Linked DNA regions of Homo sapiens. The protein of the gene in region 2 interacts with the protein of the main gene of each other region in a pairwise test. Each region holds a gene or a part of one and is shown on either strand. Other genes may lie near its edges.

Region 1 (7,025 bases), on a different chromosome or scaffold from region 2:
ACATGCTCTTTCACTGGTCACTCCATTCTTTTTCCTTTAAAGACTTGTATCATATATGCTTGTCTTTTAATTCTTCCAGTCTCTCTTGTATTCATTCTAGTCAGTCTCTCTTCCCCTCTCCCAACCATACTGGAACTGCTCTTACTGAGTTCCCTGATGACCTGTTAAAAATACAGTGGTCATGGCTGGGTGCAGGGCTCATGGCTGTAATCCCAGCACTTTGGGAGGCCAGGATGGGTGGATCATGAGGTCAAGAGATGGAGACCATCCTGGCCAACATGGTGAAACCCCGTCTCTACTAAAAATACAAAAATTACCTGGGGGTGGTGGCATGTGCCTGTGGTCTCAGCTACTCGGGAGGCTGAGGCTGACGCAGGGGAGTCGCTTGAACCCGGGAGGTGGAGGTTGCAGTGAGCCAAGATCACGCCATTGCACTCCAGCCTGGCGACAGAGCGAGACTCCGTCTCAAAAAAAAGAAAAAAAATACAGTGGTCTCTCTTTGGTTTTCATCTTACTTATGAGCAGCATTTGACACAGATGATGGATCCTCCTCCTGGAGGCACTTTGTTTGGTTTCCAGGACACTACCCCCTCCTGGCTCACCTTATGTTCCTTGGTACTTCTTTTTCAGTCCCCACAGCCTATTCCTTCTTATCTTTGTGATCTCTAATTATTGGAATGCTAGGAGTCTGTCTTAGCCATCTTTATCTTTTTAGTTGTTCAGGACAAAAACTTTGGAATCTTCCTTGATTCCTTTTATTTACCCTTCCTCCACCTCCCCAGTCAGTCCATCAGCAAATCCTGTCAGCTCTCCCTTAAAATGTACTTGGAATCTATTTTTCATCACCTCCACTGCATCCATCTTAGACCAAGCCATTACTTCTTGGCCTCGTGATTAAAGTAGTTTCCTAACCAGTCTCCTAGCGTTGTGCTTTTGTCCCTCCTTCTTCTCCCCTCCCCCTCCAGATTTTTACTACAGTAGCCAGAATTCTCTTTCTAACAGGTGAGTCAGAACATGCAGTCTTACACTTAAAACACTCCAATGGATCTCCCTTTCAACGCTTTTTGGTTTTAGCATCTTAAAATGTCATTTAGCATCTTAAAATGTCCAAAATCAAACTGCTGATTTTGCCCCGAAATCTTTTGTGTCCGTGGTCTTCCCCATCTTAGTAAATGTAACTCCAGGAGTGCAGAGCTATTTGTCTTTTTTTTTTTTTTTTTTAAATCTGTACCACTTACAGCAGTACCTGGCACTTGGTAGGCACTCAGTATTTACTGAATAAATGAGAAGAAATGAGTCTTTCAAAGAGCAGGGTAAGAGAATAGTGTTCTAGGTAATATGAACCATAAGTGCAAAAGAACCTGACGGGGCCCAAGTTTGGCATGTTTAAGGAACTGAAAAGAAGGCCAGCCTGGGCATGGTGGCTCATGCCTCTAATCGTAGCACTTTGGGAGGCTAAGGCAGGAGAATTGCTTGAGCCCGGGAGTTTGAGACTAGCCTGGGCAACATAGCGAGACCCTATTTCTGCAAGAAATTAAAATATTAGATATGGTGGCTTGCAGTACTCAGGAGGCTGAGATGTAGGACCTGCAGTAGTGACCCCTGATTGCTCCACTGCACTCCAGCCTGGGCGAGAGCCAGACCCTGTGTCAAAAAAAAAAAATGGCCAGTCTGGGCAGGAGCTTAGGTACTGTATAAATTTCCTGTTGCTACTGCGGCAGTGAAGTCATATGTACTGTTGTAAAGTTCTGGTGGTCAGAAGTCCAGAATGAGGCTCAAGGGGTTAAACATCAAGGTGTGGGTAGGGGTTCTGGAGAATCAGTTTCCTTGCCTGATGCAGCTTCTAAACACCTGGGATCCCTTCCCCATCTTAATGCCATGAGCACAGCCTCTTCAAATCTCTGTCTCTCATCTCTACTTTGCTTGTTTCATCACCTTCTCTCACTGACCCTCCTTTGTTTCCCTTGTAAGGACCATTGTGATCACGTCATCTGACCAGCCTGGGTAATCCAGGATGATCTCTTGACCTCAAGATCCTTAACTTAATCTCATCTGTGAAATTCTTTTTGCCAAGTAAATTTACATATTCACAGGTTCCAGAGATTAGAACCTAAACATTTTTGGGAGGGGTGAGGAGGTATTCAGCCTACCACAGTTAATGAAGAGTGAGTGGCCTGAGATAAGGTCTTAGAGATTGGCAGGGACCAGATCATGATAGGTCATGATAGGGAGTCTGTTTTTCAGTCATAGTGCTGAGAGGTTTCAGTAGGGGAATGATAGGATTTGATGTGAAAAAGTCTCCCTGGCCGCTGGATGGCGATTAGACTGTTGGGATCGAGAGCAGAAGGCCTCAGCTTTTTATTCATAACATCATACGGTGGATCTCAATCTTGCTGTACGTTATGATCACACCTCAAAGCAATTATATCTGAACCACTGAGGGCTGGACCCAAGTATCAGCCTTTTTTTGTTTGTTTGTTTGTTTTTTAAGAAAAAGCATTCTAATTGTAGCCAGGGTTGAGAACCACTAGTCTCATAGATCTGAATCCATTTTACCTTTTCAGCCTTAGCTCAGTAGGAGCTTCTCGCATCCATCACTTACTGCATGAGCTACTTGACCATTTCTTAGACAAACTTCCTGTATTCCCACCTGTGCCTTTCAAAATATACCTAGTCTAGGGAGGCCTACGCGGACTGTCAGGGCCCAGCTGACAAACTCTCCTCCAGAAAGCTTCTCCAGTGCCCTGTAGTAGGAATGATTTGCTTCCTTCCCTGGCTCCCATTTGCACTTAGATTTCTCAGCCCTGATCACAGTCAGCTGTATATTATCGTCTCCTTTGCTTATTTACTCATGCCTTCAACAAATACTGTACCACTTGGCTGAATGCTCTGCTAGACACTAGGATTTACTACAATGCAAAGACAGTCTTGGTTGGGCGTGGTGGCTCACACCTATAATCCCAGCACTATGGGAGGGTGAGGTGGGCGGATCCCTTGAGGTCAGGAGTTTGAAACCAGCCTGGCCAACGTGGTGAGACTCTGTCTCTACTAAAAATACAAAAATTAGCCAGGCTAATTAGCCGAGACACACTCCTGTAATCCCAGTTACTCAGGAGGCTGAGGCACTAGAATCTAGCTTGAACCCAGGAGGTGGAGGTTGCAGTAAGCTGAGACCATACCACTGTACTCCAGCCTGGGCGACAGAGCAAGACTCTGTCTCAAAAAAAAAAAAAAAAACCTTGTCTTCTAGGTCCTCCAGCAGCTTAATCTATATGGAGGTAGGAGCGGGTAGATGTGCAATAAGAATACTCTGAGATGATTGTTCAAATGGAGATTCGTCCAAGTGCTGTGGGAACATGGGGATTTCAGAGACAGGTTTTCAGCTATTTCAGTATTTGAGCTAAAAAACTTGAAGGATGATTTGGTATTTGGTGGTGAGCAGGGCATGAGGAAGGGAAGAGTTTTCTGAGACAACATGTGAAAGGCAGGAGATGGGAGAGAGATTGTAGTGTTCTTAGAGACCATGTAGTAACAGTATTGCTTCAGTGCTCAACAGTGCTCAATGAAGACAGTGTCAGAAGCAAGTAGGGGGCATTAGATTCTGTGATCTTCTATGCTTTATGTGAAGGAGTTAAATTTTATCCTATACTTGTAGGGATGCCATTGAAAAATTTGAGCAGTAGAGTGACATGGTGTGATTTCCATATTGGGAGGATTGCTCTGGGTAATGTAAAGGAGAGGCTGGAATAGAGAGGGATAAAGGCAGGGAGGCTGGTGAGTGCCACTAGGAGAGGAACAGGATCAGGTTTGTTGTAGTTGAGGGGAATTGCAGTGAATTGAGGCGTGAACCACTCTTAGAAGCCTAAGGTTATGGGGCCGGGCATGGTGGCTCACGCCTGTAATCCCAGCAATGGGAGGCCGAGGCGGCTGGATCACAAGGTCATGAAATCTCCTGGTTAACACGGTGAAACCTGTCTCTACAAAAAAAAATACAAAAAATTAGCCAGGCATGGTGGCACGCGCCTGTAGTCCCAGCTACTTGGGAAGGTGAGGCAGGAGAATCACTTGAACCCAGGAGGCAGAGGTTGCAGTGAGTTGAGGCCACGCCACTGCACTCCAGCCTGAGCGACAGAGCAAGACTCCATCTCAAAAAAAAAAAAAAAAAAAGCCTAAGGTTGTAAAAGGAAGCAATGCTTTGGGAAGGTAGAGGATTGAAGGGGAGATTCAGGATCAGGGTTCTTAAAAAAATCTTTTTTTGCCTAATAAGTGGCCTTGAAGAAGTTTATATGCATATGCTGATTAGAAAGATTCAATAGAGGCCGGGCGTGGTGGCTCATGCCTGTAATCCCAGCACTTTGGGAGGCTGAGGCGGACAGATCACCTGAGGTCAGGAGTTCAAGACCAGCCTGGCCAACATGGTGAAACCCCGTCTCAACTAAAAATACGAAAATTAGCTGGGTGTGGTGGCACACGCCTGTAATCCCAACAACTTGGAAGGCTGAAGCAGGAGAATCGTTTGAACCCGGGAGGCGGAGGTTGCAGTGAGCCAAGATCGTGCCATTGCAGTCCAGCCTGGGTGATGAGCAAAACTCCATTTCAACAACAACAAAAAAGAAAGATCCAATAGATAGACTTGAAGATAGAAGAAAGTGTAAATACAGGGGAAAATGATGAAACAAATCCCCGAGGAGGCATGAAAAGAAGTTATTCTGAGCACAAATAATTGGTTTAGCCTTGGATAAGAAGAGGAGGAGTTGTGAGAAGGGGTCATGGAACTAAGGATGCAGTCAGATGATTTTGTGAAGGAGCCAGAAACCTTGAGATTATCCCCAGTAGCCTCGGCTTGCTCTGTGACTTGGGAGAGAACAGGTGAGGAGGACAGGTGTTAAGTTGTAGTAGCCTCATCTGCACCCTAGAGTTTTCTCAGATGGTGCAGCCTAGGGGCAGGGATGGAGGAGCTGAGACTTCGATTATTCTCTGGGTTTTTTGCCAGATGATTTGAGGAGGCGGGTGGAGGATCTGCATGTGTCCTTTTCCTAGGTTTTGAATTCCTGATGCTGTAACCACATTATTTTATCTTCTATTTTGATGAGTATGCAGCTTTGCATTGCAGTGGCTGTGTAAACACTGAATTTTGTTTTGCTTCTTGACCATTTATTTTTCCTACCAGGATAGTAATGATGACACTGAAGATGTTTCACTGTTTGATGCGGAAGAGGAGACGACTAATAGACCAAGAAAAGCCAAAATCAGGTAGGAGGAGAGAAGTTGCATGAGCTGTGTTAGTGTCCAGTGCTGTTCTGTATGTATGTCAGTGCTAGCTGATGGGAGTCAAGGCAGAGTTGTTTCAATGTGCTTGTGAATACTGCATGTTGCTAATTTGACGTTTAGTGTACGACAAAGATGACATTTCAGATTTTCTTGTGAATAATTGGCATACTTAATACTGAGTTTTAAAATCAGCAAATCCAATTATTTGAACACCTGTGTTTTTAATTCTGTGCTATTTTCCAAGAATGTACCATTTCTTTATATAGTTTCTATAGATACATTACATTTTGATTTATTGTGCACATTTCAAAATCACATAACATTTCTATTCTAAATTTAATTCTCTCTAAAGAAATTCACTTACTGAAAGCAAATTCTACTTGAACCCTGCTAAAATGCTGTCTTTTACTTTTCTTTCATCTTTCATGCCAGTCACAAAAGACCACATATTGTATGATTTCATTTATATGAAATGTCCAGAATAGGCAAATCTGTAGAGACAGAAGATAGATTAGCTGTTGCTAGAAGCTGAGGGGTTTGAAGGTAAATGGGGAATGACTGCCAGTGGGTACAAAGATTCTGTCTGGGGTAATGAAAAGTTGTAAAATTGGAGTGATGGTTGTACAAATCTGTGAATGTACTAAAAACCATTAGATTGTTTACCTTAAATAAGTAAATTGTATGATATGTGAATTATATCTCAAAAAAGCTATTAAAAAACAAGAAACAGGCTGGGCACGATGGCTCATGCCTGTAATCCCAGCACTTTGGGAGGCCGAGGCAGGTGGATCACGAGGTCAGGAGATTGAGATCATCCTGGCTAACATGGTGAAACCCCATCTCTACTAAAAATACAAAAAATTAGCCGGGCGTGGTGGCAGGCGCCTGTAGTCCCAGCTACTTGGGAGGCTGAGGCAGGACAATGGCGTGAACCCAGGAGGTGAAGTTTGCAGTGAGCCGAGATTGTGCCACCAAACTCCAGCCTGGGCGACGGAGCGAGACTCCGTCTCAAAAAAAAAAAAAAAAGAAAAGAAAGAAAGAAACAAACTACCTGATAACTTTGTCTTAATGTCTGAGTGATTTCTGAGGGCTAAGGAATTCTTTTGGTGTGATTTGAAAATAGGATTCAAATTCTAAGATACAGTTTCCTTATTTCTCCAAGAGAGATAAAATTCTTTATTATCTATTTTGTGAAAGTTTATATTCAATGAGGTGTTAAAGTCATCTGTGCATAGTGTATTTTCTGTAACTACAGGGCCTAGTCAAATAGTGGGGCTTAAGAAAAAGAGAGCTAGGAGGTTTGCTTCATCCTACTAAAGTCACCTCTTTTATTTTGACAAAACTCTTCACAGTTACACGATGGCTAAAACATTTTTCTCTACATTTGCTAGTACCTGTAGTAAAATGTAATTGCATTTCTTTCATTGTGTTTTGGTTTTCAGACATCCAGTAGCATCGTTTTTCCACTTATTCTTTCGAGTCAGTGCAATCATCGTCTATCTTCTCTGTGGGTTGCTCAGCAGCAGCTTTATTACCTGTATGGTGACAATTATCTTGTTGTTGTCGTGTGACTTTTGGGCAGTGAAGGTAATTTTGATTGTTTTTATTTTAAAATTATATTTAATATGAAAATGATGTATAAAAATATGAGTTAGCATTTTGCATTATTGTTAATCTTTTGTTACTTCAAACCTCATCTGTGTTGAAGTGCTAGATATATCAAATTGCATGTAGTTTTTTTTTTTTTTTTTTTT
Region 2 (7,284 bases):
TGTTTAGTAGAGATGGAGTTTCGCCATGTTGGCCAGGCTAGTCTTGAACTCCTGACCTCAGGTTATCCACCCGCCTCGGCCTCCCAAAGTGCTGGGATTACAGGCTTGAGCCACCTTGTCCAGATGTTTTCTTTTTTTTTTTAGGTTTTTTTTTTTTGAGACAGAGTCTTGCTCTGTTGCCCAGTCTGGAGTGCAGTAGTGCAATCTTAGCTCACTGTAACCTCTGCCTCCTGGGCTCAAGCAATCCTCCCTTGTAGCTGGGAATACAGGCACGCATCACCATGCCCAGCTAATTTTTGTATTTTTTGTAGAGACGGGGTTTTGTCATGTTGCCCAGGCTAGTCTCAAACTCCGCGCTCAAGAGGTATCTGCCTACCTCTGCCTCCCAAAGTGCTGGTATTACAGGCATGAGTCACCACGGTGCCCGGCCCTGGTGAGAACTTCTCTGTCAGTTGGAGGAAACTGACTCTGCCCAACTTAATCAGAAACCCAATTTATGAAAAGCAACTGTGGAGCCCTCAGAGCCAACAAGGCGGCTGGAAAGAAAGGTTCCAAGTCGAAGCAGTATCGTCTCCAGCCCAAACCACAGTGCTACTTTGGCCTGGTGAGCATGCCACTGCTCCTGCCACGAGGGGGAAGCAGGGGCCTTTGTGACTCACACAGCCCTCCCCACAGGTGCAGACTCATGTTTCTGCCAGGACTGCTGCAGCCCTCCATCAAAGCTGGTGGCCAGTACCCCTGACTGACTCCAGGGAGGCTACATCTGATTGGTTGGGGCTGGGCAAAAGCTCTTGCCCTGGGGCAAAGGAATCTGAAAAAGATAATATCTAGCGTGTTCCTCCTCTGATGTGGAGGAAAGGGGACCAGGTGCTGAATGAAGAAGAATGGCAAGGATCCTTGAGCAAGCGTTCCACTGTAGAACTCACCGATCTGGTCCTGCAGTCAGTCCTGGGGCTGGGCTGATGGCCTCATTCTCACCTGGTTACTCTCACCCTGGGCTTTACAAGCATCAGTGGGTGTTGCTTTGCTCCACCAGCCTGATGCAGAGTTCTCACCTACAAACTGTAACCAAGGTCCCAGCAGAACACAGTCATTCTTAACAAACTGGGTATTTGAGGAGAGTTTGATAAAAGTGCTGTTGCACTTTGGGAGGCTGAGGCGGGCAGATTGCTTGAGCCCAGGAGTTCGAGACCAGCCTGGGAAACATGGCAAAAACCCTACTTCTACAAAAAATACAAAAATTAGCTGGGCGTGGTGGTGTGCATCTGTGGTCCCAGTTACTCCAAAGGTTGAGGTGGGAGGATCACCCCAGTTTCCTGGGGAAATTGGGGCCGCAGTGAGCCGTGACTGCACTCCAGCCTGGGTGACAGTGAGACCTTGTCTCAAAAAAAAAAAAAAAAATTGCTGTTTACAGAGCTGTAGGAAGGTTTGGGGAGCCACCTAGCTTTGGTACAGCATCTGGGCCAAGTCCTAGCCTTGGTACAGCATCTGGGCCAAGTTTGGTTTCTGCCTTGGAGGGGTCACTTTCCCCAGGCAACTTGTATTTCCAGGCTTTGCAAGCCTGAGCTGCAGAGACAAAACTCCTCAGACACCGAGTTAAAGAAGGAAGGGGTTTATTTGGCCGGGGGCATCGGCAAGACTCCTGTCTCAAGAGCAGAGTCCCCCGAGTGAGCAATTCCTGTCCCTTTTAAGAGGGTGCTCGTGAGAGGGTCGTGATCGATTGAGCAAGCAGGGGGTACGTGACTGGGGGCTGCATGCACCAGTAATTAGGTCAGAACAAAACAGGATAGGGATTTTCACAGTGCTTTTCTATACAATGTCTGTAATCTATAGATAACATAACTGATTAGGTCAGGGGTCGATCTTTAACTACCAGACCCAGGGTGTGGCGCCGGGCTGTCTGCTTGTGGATTTCATTTCTGCCTTTTAGTTTTTACTTTTTCTTTCTTTGGAGGCAGAAATGGGGCATAAGACAATATGAGGGGTGGTCTCCTCCCTTAGACCCACAGAAAATGCCTGCACACATGGGCACATGCCTGTGAGATGCATGGTTGCGATTTCCAAGCCACTGGGGTGATCCTAGCCTCCACTCACTCCTGCCCATGCACAGCCCTGGGTGGAGCCCAAAACACCCACCAAGCTCAACCATGAGCTGTGGGCAGATAAGAGGGTATGGGAGAGCCAAAGACCAAAAAAGTAGGGAGGAAGAGGCCAGGTGAGAGGCCCCTAAAGGATCTGGGGTTGGGGGCAGCAGAGTAGAGAAGCCAAAGGCAAGCATAGGAGGTGGGAAAGGACAATTCTTTTTTTTTTCATTTTTTTTTTTCGAGATGGAGTCTTGCTCTGTCACCCAGGTTGGAGTGCAATGGCGCGATCTTGGCTCACCACAACCTCTGCCTCCCGAGTTCAAGCGATTCTCCTGCCTCAGCCTCCTGAGTGGCTGGTATTACAGGCATGCACCACCACACCTGGCTAATTTTGTATTTTTAGTAGAGACGGGGCTCTACTGAACATGGAGATGTTGGTCCATGTCTATCCAACATGGAGATGTTGGTCAGGCTGGTCTCAAACTCCCAACCTCAGGTGATCTGCCTGCCTCTGCCTCCCAAAGTGCTGGGATTACAGGTGTGAGCCACTGCACCAGGCCTTGTTTTTCTATTTTTGAGACAGGGTCTTGCTCTGTTGCCCAGACTGGAGTGCAGTGGCACAATCATAACTGCAACCTTCATCTCCTGGGCTCAAATGATCCTCCCACCTCAGCCTCCCAAGTAGCTGAGACCACAGGTGCTTGCTACCATACCCAGCTAATTTTAAAATTTTCTGTAGATATGGGGTCTCCTTATGTTGCCCAGGCTTAGAACAACTCTTAGGAGCTTGGCTGGGGGGCAGGGACTGGAAAACCAAGGAACAAGAAACCAAGCTTGTGGATGGTGCAGAGTGGAATGAGCAACCTTTAGGGAGGCAGAGGGCTGGGCACCCAGGGTGTGGAACACAGGATGGCTCTAGAGCTGGACATGAGGAGCATACACTGGCCATTCTGCAGAAGGGGGACCTAGGCTGCACCCAGCTTTGGAGAGTGGCGCTCAGGAGGCAGAGGTGGGATAACCAGGCTGGGCTGTCAGGGAGGATGTGACTCCAGTCCCTCACTAAGACCCTCCCAGAGGGCATCCTGCCTGGGAACTGTCATATCCCTGCCCCCCACATGTGTATTGAGCACGGTGAGTCTTAAGCCCTTCTTGGCCAGGAGGTGATGGGGGCTTATTGGAGACCCAGGCCTTCCTCTCCCTGTTCTAACACCCTAGCCTGGGAAACTACTGGGAACATCCCAGATTGTCCCCTTGGGTTTCTCTTTGTCCACAGCGATGCCCCCACCTTTAGGTGAGAAATATATGGTGGCACACAGGGTGCACAACCCAGCCTGGGTGCCCCACTAGTGTGACATTTCACGTTTTCTGTCTTGAGTGAAATGTTCTGATTGTGCTAGGTGCAGAGTGGGGGTGGGTCAGGAACTCTGGGCATAAAAGGAAGAATGACTCAACATCCCTGATTCTGCCTGGACCCCTGCCCCGAAGTGAGGGGGCGGAGCCCTGTGTGGGAAGTTGGCCTGGCTGTGTGCCCTGGGAGCTGCCAGTTTCTAGCTCAGTCCTGGCCCACTGCGCCAGCGCTGAGCCTGCCAGGGCTGGGGCTGGGGATCACCTTGGGATGATGGTGTCAGTCCCAGGGGGCAGGAGATCGAGTGTCCTCTGAGCTGGCGACTGGGCCTGTAGAAGGGAACCGGCATTTGTGGAGTGTCTACTGAGTGCCAAGGTCTGCGCTGGGCACTGTCCTCGCACCGCCTCACCTAGTCCTCACGTAGCCCTCGGGCAAGTGAGGATCCGCCGGGACTGCGGCTGGGAGGGATGGCTGTGGCTGTCCCCCAGCCCACACAGTAGGCGCTCAGTGTCAGGGTGCATATTCCCGGGGACGCCCTCCAGGCCTGAGAGCTGGGGGCCGCCGCCGCCCCCCATGCATCCGGTGAGCAGAAGGAAACTCCGTGCGTCGCCCGGCGCCTGTCCGAGTCTGGGAACCGGTACCAAGTTTTCGCGCAGACCCCGGGCGCGAAGCTGGCCCCGAGGCTGGGAAGTCGTCCGCTTCCTTCCTTCCTCCTCCTTCCACCTTCCTCCCTCCTCCCTCCTCCCTCCTCCTCCCTCCTCCTCCTCCTGCTCCCCCGGACAGAGGTTCCGGGAACCAGCCGGGCCGGGGCGGGGCGGGGCGAGGGAGAGGGGCGGCCGCGCGGATCACTGAGGCTGTGGCGGCACTGCGCCCGGCGCTCGCGTCCGTCCGCCCGTCCGCCCGCCCAGCCATGACTGCGCCGGTCCCCGCGCCGCGGATCCTGTTGCCGTTGCTGTTGCTGCTGCTGCTAACGCCGCCTCCGGGTGGTGAGCCGGGGGTGGGGGCGGCCCGTCCTGCCCTGGGACCGGGCAGACACTTCCCCGCGCTGCCTCTCCAACGAGCCGGGCAGCACCAGCCCCACTATGCCCCCCACTGACCCCTGATTGCCCCGAGGCCGTCAGCGAACCCCCACGACTGCGGACCCCTCCTCCACCCCAGCACCCTCCTTGCCTGAACAACCCTGCCTAGACACCAGGCAGCTGCCACCTTTGTCTGTCCTGGAACGGTGGGGAGGGGTCTGCCCTCCCGCCCATGTTCCAGGGGATGGAGTCCCCAGAGGCTAGGGTAGGGTTCCCTGCCTGGCTTTAGTCTGGCGGGTGGCTGCAGGGCGAGCTGGCCCCTCCATCAGAGGCCTTCCCTCTTTGCCTCTGTTTAATGTCTGGGAGCCCCCACCGCTGCCTCCGTTGGCCCTTGTGTTCCTGTAGAGCCCGGCGCTGAGGCTGGCCTCTGGGGTGGAGACACCACTGTGTGTGTTGGTTGCAGATAGGTGATTCACAGAGTCTGGAAGGCTGGCTGGGGGCGGGTCCTTTAAAGGGTTAGGAATTGGAACAATCCCCTGCCCACCCATGGGAAGCCAAAGACCCTTTTGGGGTGGGTGGCTTCGTGGAGGGGAAGGCTGTATTTCCTGGGGGCTGGGATGAATCCAGAGGACCTGGGCTAGAGAAATGAGAAAGGGGAGACTTGTGCCCAGAATCCGCCCACTCCTGGAGTGAGCCTGTAGGAGGGTCGGTCACTGATTCAGTGAGGTCTGGGGGTCAGAGAGCATTTGTGCCATGGACTCAGCCTAAACAGCCTCACCGGTGTGTCTTCAGCCCTAGCTCAGAGGCTCAGATTGGGCTGTGAAGACCTTGCTGCATATGGGTTCACCTGAGCCACCAGGCACGGGCCATGCTGATGATACCAGCTTTCAGGTGGGCAGCTGGCCAAACTGGGCTTGTCAATGGTCCAATCCTCTGCTCCATGGCTTTGCCCAGAGCAGGGTTCTGCCTGGAGCTGCCAAGAAGTGCAGTTCCCCCCAACTCCCCACTAAAGTTCCCTCTTCCCAAGGAGGTCACTTGGTGTCTCTGTCTCTGGGCTTCACTCTACTGACAGCCTCGGGGTGTGTGGTGTCCTGATCAGGCCCGGGCACCAGATGCTGCACATGGCCAGGTGCCTGGCCTGGCTGGGTCTCCAGAGGCCACGTGCTATGGCAGACTGTTTCCAGGCCGATGTAGTTATGCCTCAGGGCTATCATCAGACCTGTCCCCTGCCTACTGCGGACTTGTGGGCCTTGCTGGACTAGGTATTCTCTTTGGAGTCTGCCCTGGCAGAATCCGGTACTGTTCCTTCCTGTTAGTGGGCACAGGTCTCTGCTAATGTAGCCTGAGGATACATGGGAACATTTGACTGTAGCATCTTCCTGGAGGTTTGTAAACCTTGTGGTCATCCAAAAACCTGGGTTATTTTCCACATTTGTTGTCAGCCAGATCCCCTCAGCATGACCTCGTTTATTGAGACTTGTAAGGATGTCAGTAGATCCCAACTCTGTGCTGAGAGTCTTGTGATGGCTCCAGGGCTACAGATGGTGCCACTGCCTTGGAGCCCTGTTGCCCAGGCTGGTCTCAAACTCCTGGAAGGCACAGACATTTCCTGGACACCTGCTGCAGGCCCAGCGCGGGGCTAAGTGCTTTATGAACGCTGGTATGGTGGGTGTGACAATTTCTGACCAGGATCTAGCCTGCCATCATGGTTATGGGGTGGTCTGTGAGAGCCAGGCCCCTGCAGTTGTGGTGCCCAGCAGGGGCTGAGGTTGCTGTGGTTGAGTGAGGGAGAGAGTGAACGAGGATTAAGAACTAGACAGTCTGGCTGGGGTGCGGTGGCTCATGCCTGTAATTTCAGCACTTTGGAGGCCAAGATGGGTGGATCACCTGAGGTCAGGAGTTCAAGACCAGCCTGGCCAACATGGCGAAACTCTGTCTGTACTAAAAAATACAAAAAATTAGCTGGGCCTGGTGGCAGGCACCTGTAATCCCAGCTACTCGGGAAGCTGAGGCAGGAAAATTGCTTGGATCTGGGAGGCAGAGATTGCAGTGAGCTGAGATCGCACCACTGCACTCCAGCCTGGGCAACAGAGTGAGACTCTGTCTCAAAAAAAAAAAAAAAAAAGAAAGAAAGGGACAGTCCAGTGTCTGGTCCCCTGCAGGTGTTGAGCTGTGTGACTTCTCGCCTGGGCAGCTTCTGGAGGAGGCCACCTGGAGTAGGGCCTTGAAGGATGAGTAGAGTTGAAAGGCAGGAGATAGGAACCAGGCAAGAATGTGAGCGGAGTGTGGACAGGTTGGAGAGCTGGAGTGATCTTCAGGACTCTGCAGTTTAGACCCTGCTTGGAAACTCGGGCCTTGATCCTGAAGCAGTGGGAATTAGGGGAGGTTTGAGAGCAGGGTGTGGCCCCATCAGACTCACATTGAGAAAGTTCACCCTCCTATCAGGAGGCCAGTGCACTGGTGAGGGAGAGAGGGAGCCCAGTTAGGGCAGCTCTGTTGTGGCCCGTGGGATAGGGCAAGGCTGAGGGGGAGCAGTGGCCAGGGGTCAGAAGGTGGCCTGTGGCTAGGGTGGCTCAGAGACGGTGCAGCATGTGTGTGTGTGTGTGGTCTGGTGGCTGTGCCAGGGAGGGCGCTGTGTCTGCTGGGGCCTGGCCCGTGGGCACAGGTGAACAGATGTGTTTCTCCTCTCCAGCACGTGGTGAGGTGTGTATGGCTTCCCGTGGACTCAGCCTCTTCCCCGAGTCCTGTCCAGATTTCTGCTGTGGTACCTGTGATGACCAATACTGCTGCTCTGACGTGCTGAAGAAATTTGTGTGGAGCGAGGAAAGGTGTGCTG

Evidence for each region. The genes of interacting proteins can lie anywhere in the genome.
Region 1: the proteins of SHISA5 (region 2) and TVP23B interact in binary tests that used the Homo sapiens proteins (3 or more experiments, as listed by UniProt).

The regions. Positions count from the first base shown.
Region 1 is NC_000017.11:18,784,183-18,791,207, forward strand, and holds part of TVP23B (Golgi apparatus membrane protein TVP23 homolog B), read left to right. Parts: intron 1-4,852; exon of another isoform or gene 4,853-4,869; intron 4,870-5,170; coding exon 5,171-5,253; intron 5,254-6,713; coding exon 6,714-6,858; intron 6,859-7,025.
Region 2 is NC_000003.12:48,501,150-48,508,433, reverse strand, and holds the start of SHISA5 (protein shisa-5 isoform a precursor), read left to right. Parts: upstream 1-4,259; 5' UTR 4,260-4,339; coding exon 4,340-4,415; exon of another isoform or gene 4,416-4,713; intron 4,714-5,240; exon of another isoform or gene 5,241-5,339; intron 5,340-7,140; coding exon 7,141-7,284. UniProt on the Homo sapiens protein: Can induce apoptosis in a caspase-dependent manner and plays a role in p53/TP53-dependent apoptosis.